2 separate regions of the Homo sapiens genome follow, and region 2 is linked to region 1. Evidence: fine-mapped expression QTL. A gene starts in region 1. The other region holds a variant in brackets. All regions are shown on one strand. Distances are between the middles of the regions. Region 1 holds the start of CCDC86 (coiled-coil domain containing 86). Region 2 has its middle 4.6 kb from the start of ZP1.

Region 1 (8,328 bases):
GAAAAGAGCAACGATGATTTTAGAGTTACAGGAGAACTGAGCTCATCTCTGTAAAAATGCATACTACAAGGATTTATGAATGGGATGATATGTCTAGGATGTACTTTAAAATATTTCAGGGAAAAAAAAATGCCAAAGATCAGCCGGGCGCAGTGGCTCACGCCTGTAATCCCAGCACTTTGGGAGGCTGAGGTGGGCCGATCACCTAAGGTCGGGAGTTCGAGACCAGCTTGACCAACATGGAGAAACCCTGTCTCTACTAAAAATACAAAATTAGCTGGGTGTGGTGGCACACACCTGTAATCCCAGCTACTTGGGAGGCTGAGGCAGGAGAATCGCTTGAACCCAGGAGGCGGAGGTTGCGGTGAGCCGAGATTGCTCCATTGCACTCTGGCCTGGGCAACAAGAATGAAACTCCGTCTCAAAACAAAAAAAAAGAAAAAAAGAAAAAAAAGCCAAGTATCAAAGATGAAGCTACACTAGTAAAATGCTGAGCTGTGTTGATGCTGATAATGGGGACTTGAGAGCTTTGCTCTTTCTTTGTATGCTTGAAAATTTCCATTCAAAAAAAGTAAAAACAAAATGCAAAGAAGTCTCTCGGTGGCCTCCACATGCTGAAATTAGGTCTTTCTCTTTTAAAGATTCAAGGCCCATTTTGGTGTCCCTTGGCCCTGCCGACTTCTGGCCCCAGCTCCCTGATTTCCTTCTCCCCTTCCCAAGGCCTTGCCACTGAAGGCCTGGCCTCCTAAGCACTAAGAATGGGGTGCCACATGGACTTCCCCCATAACTGTAAAGCTGGGCTTCCCAAGCTGGGGTACGAGAACCCTGAAGGGACAAGGTGTTGGGAGCCTAGAGACACACAGAACCACAAGACACAGTGCTGCATCTGTGTAGAGCAGGGCTGTCAAACAGAACGTTCTGTGATGGTGGAAACATTCCACATTGACACTGTCCAATAAGGTAGCCACTAGTCATGGGTGGCTGCTGAGCGCTAGAAATGTGGTTGGTGTTGATAGAGAAACTGAATCTTAAATTTTATTTAATTTTAATTAATTTAAATGTACATAGCCACATGTGGCTGGCGGCTAAGGTACTGAGGCAGGGCAGTTCCAGACCATTGGTTCTACCTGGGTATTGAGGAAACTCAGGCCTGGGTTCCAAGTCCAACCTGGGTGACCTGGAGCAAGGTAGCCTCTCTAAGTCTCAGCATCCTGTCCAGTGGAGATGAGAATCATTCCTAACCCAAAGGGTGGTGGGAGATTTAATCGACACACACACGTAATAGGTGCTCCATAAATGCTACTCCTCAGAGAAGGCAGACAGCATGCCCAAGGGCACTATGGAGAAAGTGGCGTTTGGCATGAGCACGAAGACAGGGCTGCAGCCAGGTCTCCCTCACCACATACACTTTCCCAGCTGCGGCTGTCTTCCTCCCTGCAGCAGGAGCTGCTTCCCACCCATCTCCAGGCTCACTTACTACCCACCGAAGCTGCTCCCTCAAAGATCCCAAACATCCATTCAGTGGCCCTGCTGGGCCCCTCGCCACAGACTTGCCTGCAGCTTCGGAAGCTGTTTTAGTTCTCTTGAGACAGCCTCCTTGTGGGTTTTCCTGCCTTCACCCCTGCCCGCCTATGTCTGTGTTCAGTAGCCAGGCTGATCTCACAAGTCAGGTCATTTCATTCCTTTGCTTGACACCCTTCCATGGCTCCCAAGCTCACTCAGGAAAGCCGGGAGTCCCTGTAAGGGTCACCAGGTCCTGCTGTCTCTCTGACCTCATCTCCTACTGTTCCCCTTCTCCCCCTCATTCCAGCAGCGAGACCTCTGGAAAGCCTCTCAAACGGGAGCTTGCTCCCGCCTCAATACCTCTGAACATCCCTTTCCTGTTGCCTGGATACTGTTTCCCCAGATCTCTGCCCGGCTCCCTCTGCTCAGACCTGTTTATCTGCAAGGCCATCTCTGAGCACTGTGGCAATACCCTGCCCTCCCTGTTATTCTCTGGTCCCCATCCTGGTTTATTTTTCTTTGAAGTCTTTATTACTGACATATCATGTGTGTACTTGTTCTTTATCTGTTTCCCACATTTAGAATGTTTGCTTCAGGAGAGCAGAGACTTTTTGTTCACAGACATGTTTACCCAAGATCTGAGCAACTGGTTGATGAATGAATGAACTACCTTCTGTCCTCAATTCATCCACTTGTTCAGCTTAGTGCCCTACCCTGCACTGGGCTCTGGGGCATCTAGTCATGATAGGTAAGTCCCCACTCTTACACTCTCACGGAGCCTCCGGTTTAAAGGAAAACAGGCAGTCAATAAGAATCACAAATAAATAAGCATTTGTGCAAATGGAGGTGTTACAAAAGAGAAGTACAGCACACAATGATAACATAAAGCATGGGGACTTAACCCTAGTTGGATAAGCCAGAGAGGCTTTTCAGAGGAGGTGACATTTGAACTGAGCCCTGAAACATGAGTGGGGGACTGGCCAGGGAAAGAGCCTTTCAAACAGTGGGAACAGCACGTGTGAAGGCGCTGAGGAAGGAGGGAGCGTCACACATGGGAGGAACATGGAGGGGACAACAGTGTGGAAGCTCTAGTGATGGAGGGGAGAGGAGGGTGGGCCTGCCGGCCTCATTAAGGAGTCTGGAGTGCATGCTCTGAGTGAGCAACAGTGAGTCAGGACGGGTCTGCAGTTGGGCAGGGAGCTGGAACCACACACCCTCTCTCCAGACTTCTTGGTCAAGTGATCTGTGGCCTCCTACTCTGCTCCAGCTGCTGATCCTGTGTCTTGTGTGGGCCCCTCCCTTCTCCCCACCTCTGCATGGGCCCAGCCCCCTCTAGCTCAGCAAGCCCATCTCCCCACCTGCAGCGTGAGTACCAGGACCCCAAGCTTCACCCGCTCAACTTGCTCATCACCCTCTTCCCACCTGAACCAGCCTCCTCCAGTTCCACATGGCCATCAACGGCCCTGCCATTCTCCTGTGACCCCCTGGGACAGGGCAGAGGGGTAGTGCCATCATCCACTTCTCCAACAGTTACAGTCACTCTAGCCTCAAAGTCTCTCCCATGGGAGACTTGCAGTAAATTACTCTGTAAGCCTCAGTTTCTTCTGTTTCATCAGGGGTGGGGGGATAATATCCACAGCCTAGGGTTTTAAGGATACAAGAAAAGGGCCTAGCACGAAGCCTGGCACAGAGTCAGCTTCTTCCTTAAAAACACCCTCCTTCCTCATGGTCCCTCACAGGCATACATCCCTGACTCTCCCCTGTGGTTCCCATTAGCTCGAATTGGAACTGAATCCCACACCTCTCCTTCATGGCAGCCTACACTCTTCCTTCTTCAGATGAGCTACTTCGTTCCTTCATTAAATAAGCATTCATTGGGCATTTACTATGCCCTTGGCACAGAAAGACAAGAAAGATCTCGTGCCTGCCCCTTAAGAAGGTCGCAATCCAATTCAAGGTGGATCTACAGGGATTGGGTAAAGGGGTTTTTTGCACACAGGCTTCGGAATCAGATCTGTGCTCAGGTCCTGTGCCTACCACTCATTTAGCCTTGGTTTCCTCACACAAAAAACAGGAATAATAACACCGCCTGCTTCACAGGGCTGACGTGCAGATTAAGCGTGATGACACATGCTGTTCCATGTTTGAAAGGCTGTTGACTGGTAAATCCTTATTAAGGCTGTTGACTGGTAAATCCTTATATAATCAGTGCTCAGTAATACTTTTTATCTTAAAGGCAAATAACTGTAATAGACTATATTGGATGAAGACCTCACTGCTTTGATCAAGTAATGGCTGGTTTACTTGCTTCTGCTTCTCTCACTAGAGAGGGCAGACAACGGTAAATGTCTGTTGAACGAATACAGACCTGAGGTGCTACAGGAGAGGCCCATAGGGACCCTGAGGAGGAAAGGCATCAGAGAAATTGATCTTTGAGGGCCTGGCCCCACCCTCTCCGGGATCCCAGGGCATTTTACCACATTCTGATTGTAATTACCTGTTTGCTAACATCCCCACTAACGTGAGCTCTCTCTAACCCTGGGGCTATTCTCCAGGCTGCAGCAGGGCAAAGGCGGGGTCCCAACACCATAGAGAACGCCACCCCTGTCCATGCTGTCCCCCACTTCACCTTTTCTTGGAGCGGTCCTTCCACACTCGCCCCGATTTGGGCTTCCCCTTCGGGATTACAGGAAGCTCCTCTTTATTCAACTTCTTGGACGCTGGGGCCTGGGATGAAGAACCTTTTCGCTTCTTTGCCCCGAAGCCGCCTGTCACCGTCTCCCCAGCTGGAGGTGGCTTGCTCGGCTCATGCTGACCCCGGGGGGAGCCAGGTGCCCTGGGTGTCAGCTCCAGTAGTGGCTGAGAGGGCTCCGGACCGGGAGCTTGCTGACCGGGGTAAGGCTCTGGTGATCCTGGGACCGGCGGTAGCTGATGCTGGGGGGCCCCCGGGGTCAGCTCCTCCTTATTCTGGGCCAACTCCGAGGCCAGTACTCCCTGGTCCTGAGAACACTTTGGTGCCTCCTCACTTGGCTTCGGCTGACATCGTGGGGATTCAGGACTGTACTCTGGCTGTCTTTGAGGCGACTCCAGGTGTAGGTCTTGCTGACGCTGGGGGGACGCTGCGCCTGGCTCTGGCTGCCCTTGGGGTGACTCCAAGCCTGCACCCTGCTGCAGACGGGGTGATCCTGGGCTTGTCTTCGGCGGCCTTTCGGGGGACCCCAGGCCAGCCCGCTGCACACTCGGAGGAGACCCGGGCTCCCTCGTTTCTTCTGGGTTCGACTCGAACTCCACAAGGGCCCGTCTCGTCCGCGAAACTGAGGTGAGGCTCTCGGGGGATTCGGGCCTTAGGCCTCCCAGCCGTCGGCTGCGCCTTAACGGTGTATCCATGGCTCAGCCGGTAAGTTTCCACACCCCTGCGCACGTGCAGCCCCCGCCGAAACCGGCGCCTTCCTATGACGTCAGGAGTCGCCGCGTCCGTGACGCACAGGAGGGGGGCTGTTGCTGAGGCGGCCATGTTGGTGAGGGGTGGAGAGGCGGGACCGGGGTTGGGGAGAGTGGGGCTCAGCATGCGCATGCGCAATTCGCGCGAGCGCAGTCAACATGTGATTGATGAGCCAGTCTTTTTCCTGGGATTCGCTTTTGCCTTTCTTGCAAAGTTTCCTGGGGAAAGAAGAGCGAGCAAGTAGAAAAGGGAAAGTGGGAGGACCCATTTCAGGGAGAGAACAGAGTCGAAAAAAGGTCCGAGGAGCCCATAGGCAAGGCCCAGTGGATGTTTTGCAGCCAACTCCGGTGCAGTTGGGCAGAGTCCTGCCCTCCTTGGGCCTGTTTTCTCATTTGTAATAGGGGTCATTTTGCACTAGCTTCGTGCATCCCAAATGATCCTGTCAGAGTCCTCCTCCCACCTACCTGAGGGACTGCTACCTGGGGGTCCTGGAGGTGGAAGATCGGTCTTTTCTGTGTTAATTGTTCACACTCTTGATTCTTCCGTCCTGTGCTTCCGTATATAATCCATAGCTCTCCCTCCCTTTTCAGCGTTTTCAACGTTTGTGAGGGAAGTTGAGGTACCAATAAGATGCACCACCTTTGTCCTGTGGCTCACCTGGGCCCTCGACCAGCTGCATATCCTCCCACGTCCCTCTTCTTCTACCCCAGTTCTAGAAACGGGTTGGATCATCTCCGATCTTCCTTTCAGCCCAGACAGTGGTTTTTGCTCGTGTGTGAACCTGCTTCGCCTCCCCTCCCTTCCCTTGCTATTCACCTGTAAATGTACTTTGCTTACTAAGCACTTTGGGACCTCACCAGTGAGCAGGTGTTGACTTCTGGACCTCCCAAGGCCTAGAGAAGACTCTCGGGATGTGGGGTTGGGGAATGTGGGGCTGTGGAGACTTTCGTGTGAGACCTAGGAGTGGGGCTTTGATTTACTTACAGCATGCTTCTTAGGAAGAACATCTTGGAAGTGGCCCAGTTGTGTAATTCTTGGAACTGCCTGGGGTTGGCCATTAAAGGTCCCAGGGCCCCGTCTGACATTCCAGTGGTTTCTTTTAGAAACCATTGTTTCTCCAGCTGCGGGCTTGTGAGAGGGCCTGGGAAATTGTCCAAGAATATCAGGGATCAGAGTGTCCTCATCTTCCTCATGTTCCTGAGTCAAGGAGACCCCTGCAGGGGGGCTTTGCCTGCCTCACTGCTCCTCTCCGGCCATGCAGCTGTCCACAGCAGAAGCAGCCGGGACACCTCCTTGCCCAGCTCTTCCACCCCCCAACTGTCAGAGGAGTGAGTTCCATTCAGTTCCTTAAATGCCCTGCCCCTGCCTGGAGACCCCAATGATCTGACACTCAGAACCAAGCCCGGCAGGTGTTGCCAGAGTGCTGGAGGAGACTGTATGCCCCTCTGCCCTGCTCCAGTCCCCCTTGGCTTGCCCTGCCTCCTAAGCTCTTGTCCCCAGCTGGAGGGATCACTCTCCAGTGCCGATTGGATCATATCCTAGTCTAGCCTGAAATACTTCAGAGGGTGATCTCAGGTTTTCACCAGAGAGAGGGAGATGTGTTTTAGAGGAGGCCTTTGGGTGGCCCCCAGACATTTGGAGGCACTTTGTCAACCTCAGCATCAGATGGGCTCTGGCCCAGAACCCCCTACTCCCACATGAGCTCAGTTTGTCATTGTCATTATACATGGTGTGCAGAGGCCCAGAGGAGACTCCTGAAATTTTCAGAAGCGCCTGGTGTGGCGATCGCTGTTGGGACCCTGTCTCCTTACACTCCTTTGCTTTCTTTTAAAAATTATTATTATTTTTGAGACAGGGTCTTGCTCTGTTGTCCAGGCTGGAGTGCAGTGGCACAATCACAGCTCACTGCAGCCTTGACCTCCCAGGCCCCAGGGATCCTCCCACCTGAGTAGCTGGCACCACAGGCTCATGCCACCATGCCTGGCTATTTTTTTTTTTTTGTAGAAACGGGGTCTCCCTGTGTTGCTCAGGCTGGTCTTGAACTCCTGGGCTCAAGTGATCCTCCTGCCTCGGCCTCCTGAAGTGTTGGGATTACAGGCGTGAGCCACTGTGCCTGGCCACTCCTTTGCTTTTATTGCAGCTTTCTACATCACAGCTTTCTTGCCTTTAGGTGGTAGGATACTGAGGGGCTTCTCTGTAGCCCCCAGAGGCCACCAACAGGATTGAACTTGCATTGCCCACAAAGGTAATCTGCTCATGGACCCTCTTTTGGCTTCATCCCTGTCTCACTTCCCCACTTTCTTATAGATGCTTGCTGAGGTCATTCTCAGAGCAGACAAATATTGTACTTAATCCTCTTCTCAGAGTTGGCTTCTGCAGAAACCTAGCCTGAAACATTGGTGCCAGCAATGATTGGTCCAGGCATTGTTTCAAGTACTCTCCAAGTACAAATCCATTTCTTAATGCTTCTCCCAACAATCCTGTGAGGCAGGTGCAGTTGTTATTACTCCCAGTTTACAGATAAAGAAACTGAGAGGCTGGGTGCGCTGGCTCACACCTGTAGTAATCCCAGTACTTTGGGAGGCCAAGGTGGGCGGATCACTGGAGGCCAGGAGTTCAAGACCAGCCTGGCCAACATGATGAAACCCCATCTCTACTAAAAGTACAAAAATTAGCTGGGTGTGGTGGCAGGCGCCTCGAGTCCCAGCTACTCAGGAGGCTGAGGCAGGGGAATTGCTTGAACCTGGGAGGTAGAGGTTGCAGTGAACCAAGATCGTGCCACTGCACAGCAACCTGGGTGGCAGAGCAAGACTCTGTCTCAAAAAAAAAAAAAAAAAAAGACTGAGGCACAGAGAGGCTGAGACACTTGTAAAGGTCACACAGCAAATAAGTGGTAGAGGCAAGATCCACACCTAGACTGTCTGATTCCAGAGCCACAACTCTTAACAGTAAATCTGCCTGTTATCCAGGCAAGGAATCAGGCATGGGAAGGCTAAGGTGCTTGCCCAAAATCAGACAGCGGCACATTCAGGAGCCAGGATTGTGGTTCCAGAGGTGGCATGCTTAGCTGCCTTGCAGCTGCCCCCACATGGGCCTTGCTCACCTATTCGTCACACTGATTCTGGTCTGTGTGCTGGGAGGAGGTGGGTACCACCTGGCACACACCATCGTGCAGAATGTGCCGAATCAGCAATACCAGTTTATTTATGTAACCTGAGATCTGCTGACTGATGGAAACCAAGCGCTGGCAGATGGATGGAAGATAGGATCAGGTGTTCTCCTCTGAGTCATTGACCTCCCCCCAGCTAAGGGGTGCTACAGTTGAGAGGGTCTGACAGTCCCCAGATGTCAGAGACCTGGGTCCCCATGGCTTTCTGTTCAAC
Region 2 (8,291 bases), 20 kb before region 1:
AGCTGGCAGCGGAATGGGGACTGCAGGTGAGTAAACAGACCAGTAGCACCTCCAAGGGCTCTCCTGAGGATTCAGCCGGTCAGTATGATGATGACTATGACTAATAAAAAATAACAAGGACAACTAAATGTAATGTGGCATCTGGATGGGATCGTGGAACAGAAAAAGGCAGTAAAAGTGAAGAAAGTGGATTTTAGTTAATAATAATGTGTCCACATTTGTTTGTTCATTAATTGTAATAAATGTATCATACTCAAGTAAGATCAGTTATGGGGTAAACTGGGCCTGCGGTGTATGGGAACTGTCTGTACTATCTTCTCAGTTCTGTAAATCTAGAACAGTTCTAAGACATAAAAGTGGCTGGAAACAACAAGAATGGCCTGTGGTCTGCCATGATTACAGTGCCAGGTCTTGCTTGTGTTAGATCCTTATACCGCCTGACCATCCTCTGAGGAAGGGACTGTCACCAGCCCCACGTCCTGGCACTAATTCCTGCAAGTGATTAGCCTAGGGCCCAGCAGCGTTTGAGCTCAGCAAACATTAGAAAATGCAGCTATTATAATTAGCAGCTGCTGGAAGGGGAGAGCAAGAGGCTTGATAGCTAAGAGCCCGGTTCTGGTGAGGTTGCAGAGAAAAAGGAATGCTTATACGCTCTTGGTGGGGGTGTAAATTGGTTTGACCACTGTGGGAGTGTGGTGATTCCTCAAAGAGCTGAAAACAGAACTATCATTTGATGCAGAAATCGCATTACTGGGTATATATCCAAAGGAATATAAATTGTTCTATCATAAAGACACTGAACCTGCGTGCATATGTTCAGTGCAGCATGATTCACAATAGCCAAGACATGGAATCAAATGCCCATCAATGGTAGACTCAATAAAGAAAATCTGGTACATGCTGAGCACGGTGGCTCACGCCTGTAATCCCAGCACTTTGGGAGGCCGAGGCGGGCGGATCACGAGGTCAGGAGATCGAGACCATCCTGGCTAACATGGTGAAACCCTGTCTCTACTAAAAATACAAAAATTAGCTGGGTGTGGTGGCACGCACCTGTAGTCCCAGCTACTCAGGAGGCTGAGGCAGGAGAATCGCTTGAACCCAGGAGACGGAGGTTGCAGTGAGCCGAGATTGTGCTGTTGCACTCCAGCCTGGCCGACAGAGTGAGACTCTGTCTCAAAAAAAAAAAAAAAAAAAGAAAAAGAAAAAAAAAAAAGGAAAATGTGGTACACATACACCATGGAATACTATGCAGCCATAAAAAAGAATGAGATCACATCTCTTGCAAGAACATGGATGGAGCTGGAGGATATTATCCTTAGCAAACAAATGCAGGAACAGAAACCAATACCACATGTTCTCACTTATAACTGAAGGCTAAATGATGACAACATATGGACACATAGAGGGGAATGGCACACACTGGGGCCTATTGAAGGGTAGAGGGTAAGAGGAAGGAGAAGGGTGGAAATAATAACTATTGGGTGCTAGGCTTAGTATCTGGGTGATGAAATAATCTGTACAACAATCCCTCTGGACATGCATTTACCTATATAACAAACCTGCATAAGTAACCCTGAACCTAAAATAAAAGTTTAAACAAAAAAAGTTGGTTCTAATGGTGCCCCAACCACTTTCTTAGCTGTGACTCAGATGCATTATCTATTCTGAGCCTCAGGTTTCCTGTTTGTAAACTGGGGGTGATAATGCTTTCCTTGCCCACATGGTGGATAGGAAGACACAAAGAGACAAGTCATGGGTACCAGGTGCAGTAATGATTTAATGCTTGGCAATAATTCACTTCTACTGTGATTAAAGCTCAGCTGGGAAAGCTTGGTGGGGCGGGGTGGGAGTCCCTCTGGGGGCACAGTGGGAAGAGGCACCCAACACAGCATCGAGGATGGGCGACATGGAAGTGTTTTTGGAGGAAAGGGGTCCTGAGCAGAGGTGGGAGGAGGCGGGGAGGACAGGGATGGTGCAATGGGGATCTGGGGAGAGCAGAGCTGGAGGAGGAGGGAGGAAGCAGGTCACACAAAGGTCCAGGACAAGGACTCCAGGCAGGCTGAGGGTGCTGGCGAGGGAAGGACTAGGAGGGGAAGGAGAGGAGCCAGGCAGGAGCGGGGAGTGGGGTGGATTTTCCCTGAGGGACGATGTGGAAGTTTTAAACTTTTAATTTTGAAATTATTTCAGATTTGCAGAATTTCCATATAGCCTCCTCCAGATTCCTCAGATGTTCACTGTTCACTTTTTACATTTGCTGTAGCTCCCGCTTTCTCTCTCTGCATGTGTGCAGACATACACGCACGCACACGCACACACGCACACATTCTTCCATATCATTCAAGAGTCAGTTGCAGAAATGACAGATTCCCCTTTACCTCTAATTGCTTCAGTATACATTTCCTAAAAAAACAAATCACCCCTACAGTCAAATGATCAAAATCAGGAAACCAACAATGGTATAAACACAACGATCTAATCTGCAGACATTATTGTAAGAAATAAAGAGGAAAGCAACATGAAAGGGCGGTTCAACAGGCAACAGGGACAGGTTTATGTTGAGTAAACCTGAGAGGGGCGGCTGGCCGAGTTAGGTCAGAGCCCCACTCTCTTACAGATTAAGAGTTAAGGATTCAGGGCGGGGGAGTTTATCAGAGGCTTGGACTGCTCCTGTGTCTCTTTGCTGTGCGTATCTGGGAGGGAGAGTTGTGTGTCTGTTCCCATATATCTTTCTGCAGCTACAGGCATATCCCCAGAGTCTGCTTTTAGCTTCCCTATCTTAGTGCCCCTGAAGGAAAAGGAATGTGCTTATTAAGGCCCACTGTTTTACTGGGGCTCATTGTGTGAGGGTGAAGTTTGGCAGTTACCAAAGAGACCTTCCCTCCACCCCGCTCTGTGCCGGAGCTGTCTTATCTGTATTTTACTGTCTGCTCTTTCTGGCTGTTGTAGTTAGAAGAGAAGTGATTTCCTTGAAATGCATGAGGCTAGAAAGGGAGCTGGAGCTTAAAGTGGCAGTATTTGTCCGAGATGACGGTGCTCCTGCTCTGACAATTACTCAACATCTGCCGACTGTCCTAACTGTGACTTTCATGGCAAAGGAGTACAGTGGTTTTGGGAGTCTGCAGGATCCAATCCAGGCTCAGAGTCTCGCTGGCGTGCCTCTTGGCCTCCTCTGATCTGGGACCGCCCTTCTATCTTCTTTTGTCTTTCATACCCTTGACATTTTTTAGTACAGCCGGATGATTTTGCAGAATGGCCCTCAGTTTGGGTTTGTCTGGTGTTTTCTCCTGGTTACATTAGATTTAGTTGATGCATCTTGGCCTTGTATTAGTCCGTTTGGCTGCTGTAACAAAATACAGACTGAGTGGCTTAAATAAGTCTTTTTCTCACAGCTCTGGAGCCTGGATGTGCTAGGTCAAAGTGGTGGCAGGTCTGGTTGCTCCTGAGGCCTCTCTCTTTGGCCTGCAGACAACCGTCTTCTCACTGAGTCCTCACGTGGTCTTTCCCCTGTGCTGGTGCGTCCTTGGTGTCTCTTTGAATGGTCAAATTCCCTCTTCTTCTGGCTGGCACGGTGGCTCACGCCTGTAATCCTAGCACTTTGGGAGGCCGAGGTGGGCAGATCACTTGAGGTCAGGAGTTTGAGACCAGCCTGGCCAACATGGTGAAACCCCATCTCTACTAAAAATACAAACTAATTAGTTGGGTGTGGTGGTGCACACCTGCAATCCCAGCTCCTCAGGAGGCTGAGGTGGGAGAATCACTTGAACCTGGGAGGTGGAGGTTGCAGGGAGCCAAGACGGCACCACTGCACTCCAGTCTGGAAGACAGAGTGAAACTCCATCCCAAAAAACAAAAACAAATTTCCTCTTCTTCTAAGGACACCAGTCAGATTGGATTAGGGCCACCTTAAGGGGCTCAATCTTAAATCACATCTTTAAAAGCTCTATCTCCAAATACAGTCACATTCTGAGGGATGGGGGTGGAGGGTTAGGGATTTCGCATATGAATTTTGGGGGGATACAATTCAGCTTGTACAGAAGTGATGTTGTGTCCTTCTCAGTATCTCGAGGCACACCCCGCTGGCTTGTCCTGTTATTGCTGATGTGACTTTGATCACTTGGATAAGGTGGT[G/A]TCTGCCAGGTTTCTCCACCATAAAGTAATGATGTTTCTCTTTGTAATTCATGAGTATCTTACAGGGAGATACTTTGAGACTATGTAATCAATCCTGCTCCTCTTCAAATGTTCACTGGCTAGTGTGGTTGCCAAGTGGGTGGTGGTTCTCTAACTCTACCCTTCCTTCTGCATTTATTTGCTATCATAAGAGAGAACTTTTCCTAACGGGGGCTTTTAGGGGCCAGAGAGAGAATCAGCTGGAGTCTTTGAGAGGCCTGGATTTTGCCTGGTGCTCACTGTTTATGAGCACAAGGGCCCTGGGAAGTCACTTACCGGCTTTTTTCCTCTATCTGGAGAGTAAGGATGAGAATGATTATGGTGGGGATGCAATTACATAAGACACGGAGAGGTGTTTCCCCACTGGTCATGGACCCATGGGGAAAGTACGTCTCCCAAGGTGCTGGAAATGGGCAGGGAAAGAGAAGGGGGGCTTCCTCAGGGCCAAGGGCAGAACACCTTTGGGAAAAGGGTACCAGAGTATCCAAGAGAGAGAGAGAGCGCGCACGAGCGCCCTGAGCCCTCGGTTACGACTCTACGTTCTTGCAAAGACTCATGGACACCAAGAATTATCAGCCTGGGAGGATCCCAGCTCCTCTGCTCACCCACTGGAGACCTTGGAAAAGTCCCTTCCCTGCTCTGTGACTTGCTTTCCTCATCTATAAAATGGGGTTATAATAGCACCTAAATTGTAGGGTTGCTCTGAGGATTAAATGAGATAATCCATGTGAAGCAGGCAGAACAGGGTCTGCACATGGTCATCATTTGAACACGATAGCCATTACAACCACGATTATTTTTATTGATAAAGAGAGAGGGTCAGATGGAGGTGACTTGACTTGGAATCTTGGCTTTATCCACTTGGCTTCTGGTTTTTGGGTTTTTTTTTAGAGATGGGGTCTTGCTATATTGCCCAGGCTGGTCTCAAACTCCTGGGCTCAAGCAATCTGCCCGCCTCTGTCTCCCAAAGTGCTGGGATTACAGGCATGAGCCTCCACACCTGGCCACTTGGCCTGTTTGTAAACCTGTTTGTTCATTTCTTTCTTTCTGTTTTTAACCTATGAATTTTTTTTTAATGGAACTTCAGTTTCTTTTCTTTCTTTTTTTTTTTTTGTTTTGTTTTGAGACAGAGTCTCACTCTGTCGCCCAGGCTGGAGTGCAGTGGCGCGATCTCGGCTCACTGCAAGCTCCGCCTCCCGGTTCACACCATTCTCCAGCCTTAGCCTCCCGAGTAGCTGGGACTGCAGGCGCTGGCCACCATGCCCGGCTAATTTTTTATATTTTTAGTAGAGACGGGGTTTCACCGTGTTAGCCAGGATGGTCTCGATCTCCTGACCTTGCGATCCGCCCGCCTCAGCCTCCCAAAGTGCTGGGATTACAGGCGTGAGCCACCGCACCCAGTTGGAACTTGAGTTTCTTAATCTATAAAATGGAACTAAGAATACAGTCCACCTAAGTGGGGCGCCGTGTAAGTATCAGTTGCTTGCCCTGTCTCCTCTGTGAATAGAGCCTAGGGAAGGCACTGGAGGAGGATGGAGCCTCTCTAGGCTGGAAAGACAAAATCCCCTTTCAGGGGATCCATGCATGCCAGGAAACCAGCAGGAAGCAGGCTGCCTCACTCCGGGGCCTGCAGAGTAACCCAAGAGCAGCGCCAGCTGTGTGTGTATGTATGGACCGTGCTCACCGCAGAGATGCTCCCAGAAGGCCAGTGGGAGCGCATTTAACTGAAGACAGGCAGCCCTGCTTCCCCTGAGGGAACAAAGAACCTCAGAGAATCTCATCAGCTGCGAAGAGCTGGGCTCTGCTGCTGGACCACATGGCTCTGAACTCCAGCTCCTCTGCTCCCCAGCTGAGCAGGCTTGGTAGGGTTGCTTAAGCTCTCTGAGCCTCAGTTTTCCCCTTGGTGAGTGACGATGATAGTGGTACCTAACTCAGAGGGGTGCGTGAATATTTGATGAGCTCATCCATGAGCAAGTTTCAGCCTTACGCTGGCACATAGTGAGTGCCCCATAAGTGTTAGCTATTACTGTTTTCATTTTTTTTTTTTTTTTTTTTTTGAGATGGCGTCTCGCTCTGTCACCCAGGCTGGAGTGGAGTGGCAGGATCTCGGCTCACCATAACCTCTGCCTCCTGGGTTCAAGCGATTCTCCTGCCTCAGCCTCCTGAATAGCTGGTATTACAGGCGTGCACCATCACACCTGGCTAATTTTTGTATTTTTAGTAGAGATGGGGTTTTGCCTGTTGGCCAGGCTGGTCTCGAACTCCTGACCTCAAGTGATCTGTCCGCCTCATCCTCCCGAAGTGCTGGGATTGCAGGCATGAGCCACCGTACCCAGAAGCTATTATTGCTTTCACTGTGTTGAATGGTGGCCCTCAAAAGACATGTCCACAACCTAACCCCTGGAACCTGTGAATGTGGCCTTATTTGGATAAGAGGACTTTGCAGATGTAATCAATTTAAGAATCTCAAGATGAGAGCACCCTGGATGATCCAGATGAGCCCTAAGTCCAGTGACCAGTACTCTGTGAGAGACACATGAAAAGAGGGAGGGGGAAGGCCAGGTAAAGAGGAGGTAGAGATTGCAGTGATGCAGCCCTAAGCCAAGGGACGCCTGGAGCCACCAGAAGCTGGAGGGGCCAAAAAGTCTCCTTTTCTAGAGCTTTCGGAGGAAGTGCTGGCATCTGATTACAGACTCTGGCTTCCAGACTGTAAGAGAATAAGTCTCTGTTGTTTAAAGCTGCCACGTTTGTGGTAGTTTGTTCTGACAGCCCGAGGAAACAAATACACCACTGTTGTTTCTGCGACGATTGCCTGGCACATGTGTGGGCCTGAGCCCAGGCCAGGGCTGCCTCTGCCTGCTCTGCCTTCTTGTCTTCCTTCCTACTATAAAGCGATCAGTCCCCAAGGTTGTACCCACTGCAGGTGAAGACAGAGCCATGGAGAATTGCACCAGACCATGGGTAAGAAAGGTTCCAGAATGGGGCCGGACACAGTGGCTCAGGCCTGTAATCCCAGGACTTTGGGAGGCTGAGGCAGGCAGATCACCTGATGTCAGGAGTTTGAGACCAGCCAGGCTAACATGGTGAAACCCCTTCTCTACTAAAAATACAAAAATTAGCCGGGTGCGGTGGCGCACGCCTGCAGTCCCAGCTACTTGGGAGGCTGAGGCAAGAGAGTCGCTTCAACCCGGGAGGCGGAGGTTGCAGTGAGCCAAGATAGGGCCACTGCACTCCAGCCTGTGCAACAGAGCGAGACTCAGTCTCAAAAAAAAAAAAAAAAAAAAAAAAGTAAAGGTCTCAGAATGGGTCACCACAAGGGACTGGGGTCCTTTGAGGTCTGCACAGGGAAGCCAATTTTAGAGATTCATTCTGTTCAGCAAATATATGTTGGGACCCCTCTCATGTGTCAGGCCCTCTGCTTGCCTTTGGAGGTGAGAAGATAAAACAGGAATAAGTCTCTGTCTTCAGGTGGCTCATGAGGGTGGTGAACAGTTGTGTGAACAAGAGTTACCAGGGAAGACAGGGGGGCTGCAGGTCAAGTGAAGTGGAGATGTGGGAGAGGAGGGACAGCAAGTGGGTCTGAGAGAATCAGCAAAGGCTTCCCAGAGGAGGCAACCTCTAACCAGGGTTTTGAAGGATGAATAGGAGTTCACTGAGAGGCCAAGGGAAGAAAAGGCATTCCAGAGCAGAGCACAAACAGCATAAGCCAGGGCACAGAAACAGCCTGGTGGGCACAGAAACAGCCTGGTGTGTACAGAAAAAGCCTGGTGTGCACAGGACAGGAGGGGACAGTGGTGAGTGCTGGCTGATGACAGGATGCCACTAGGGAGTGGCAGCAATGCCAGGGGAGGCTTGGGTGGGACTGGATCACCGAGGGGCTTGTTGGCCATGCGAGGAGTCCTGTGGGTGATGGTGGCACCAGGGAACTCAACCTGGGCCTCCCCAAGGTATCATTTGGGGCCCTGCCATGCTGCTCCTCTACTGGGTGTGGGTAGCTCGAGGGCCTCCGAGCAAGGGGCTGGAGGATCCCAGGGCAGGCCTCACCCTGCTTCCTGCCCTGCATCTCACTTCCTGTTTGACTGACTTCTTTAAAGTGGCCAGAAAGGAACATAAAAAACCCA

The links. PIP is the estimated chance that this variant, and not a neighbour inherited with it, causes the effect.
Region 2: its variant is fine-mapped to the expression of CCDC86 in whole blood (TOPMed, PIP 0.96).

Annotation. Positions count from the first base shown.
Region 1 is chr11:60,838,687-60,847,014 of GRCh38, reverse strand. It overlaps CCDC86 (coiled-coil domain containing 86), which reads right to left and starts at 4,902. Exons shown (of 4, transcript NM_024098.4): 1 at 4,133-4,902. The coding sequence starts at 4,890. It overlaps CCDC86-AS1 (CCDC86 antisense RNA 1), which reads left to right. Exons shown (of 2, transcript NR_182293.1): 2 at 5,035-5,209. RefSeq lists enhancers at 4,477-4,706, 4,613-5,812.
Region 2 is chr11:60,858,764-60,867,054 of GRCh38, reverse strand. No RefSeq gene overlaps it. Among named protein-coding and RNA genes, the nearest start is that of ZP1, 4.6 kb to the left of the region's middle. RefSeq lists silencers at 2,561-2,778, 2,625-2,919. The variant G/A (reference allele first, on the strand shown) is at 4,132.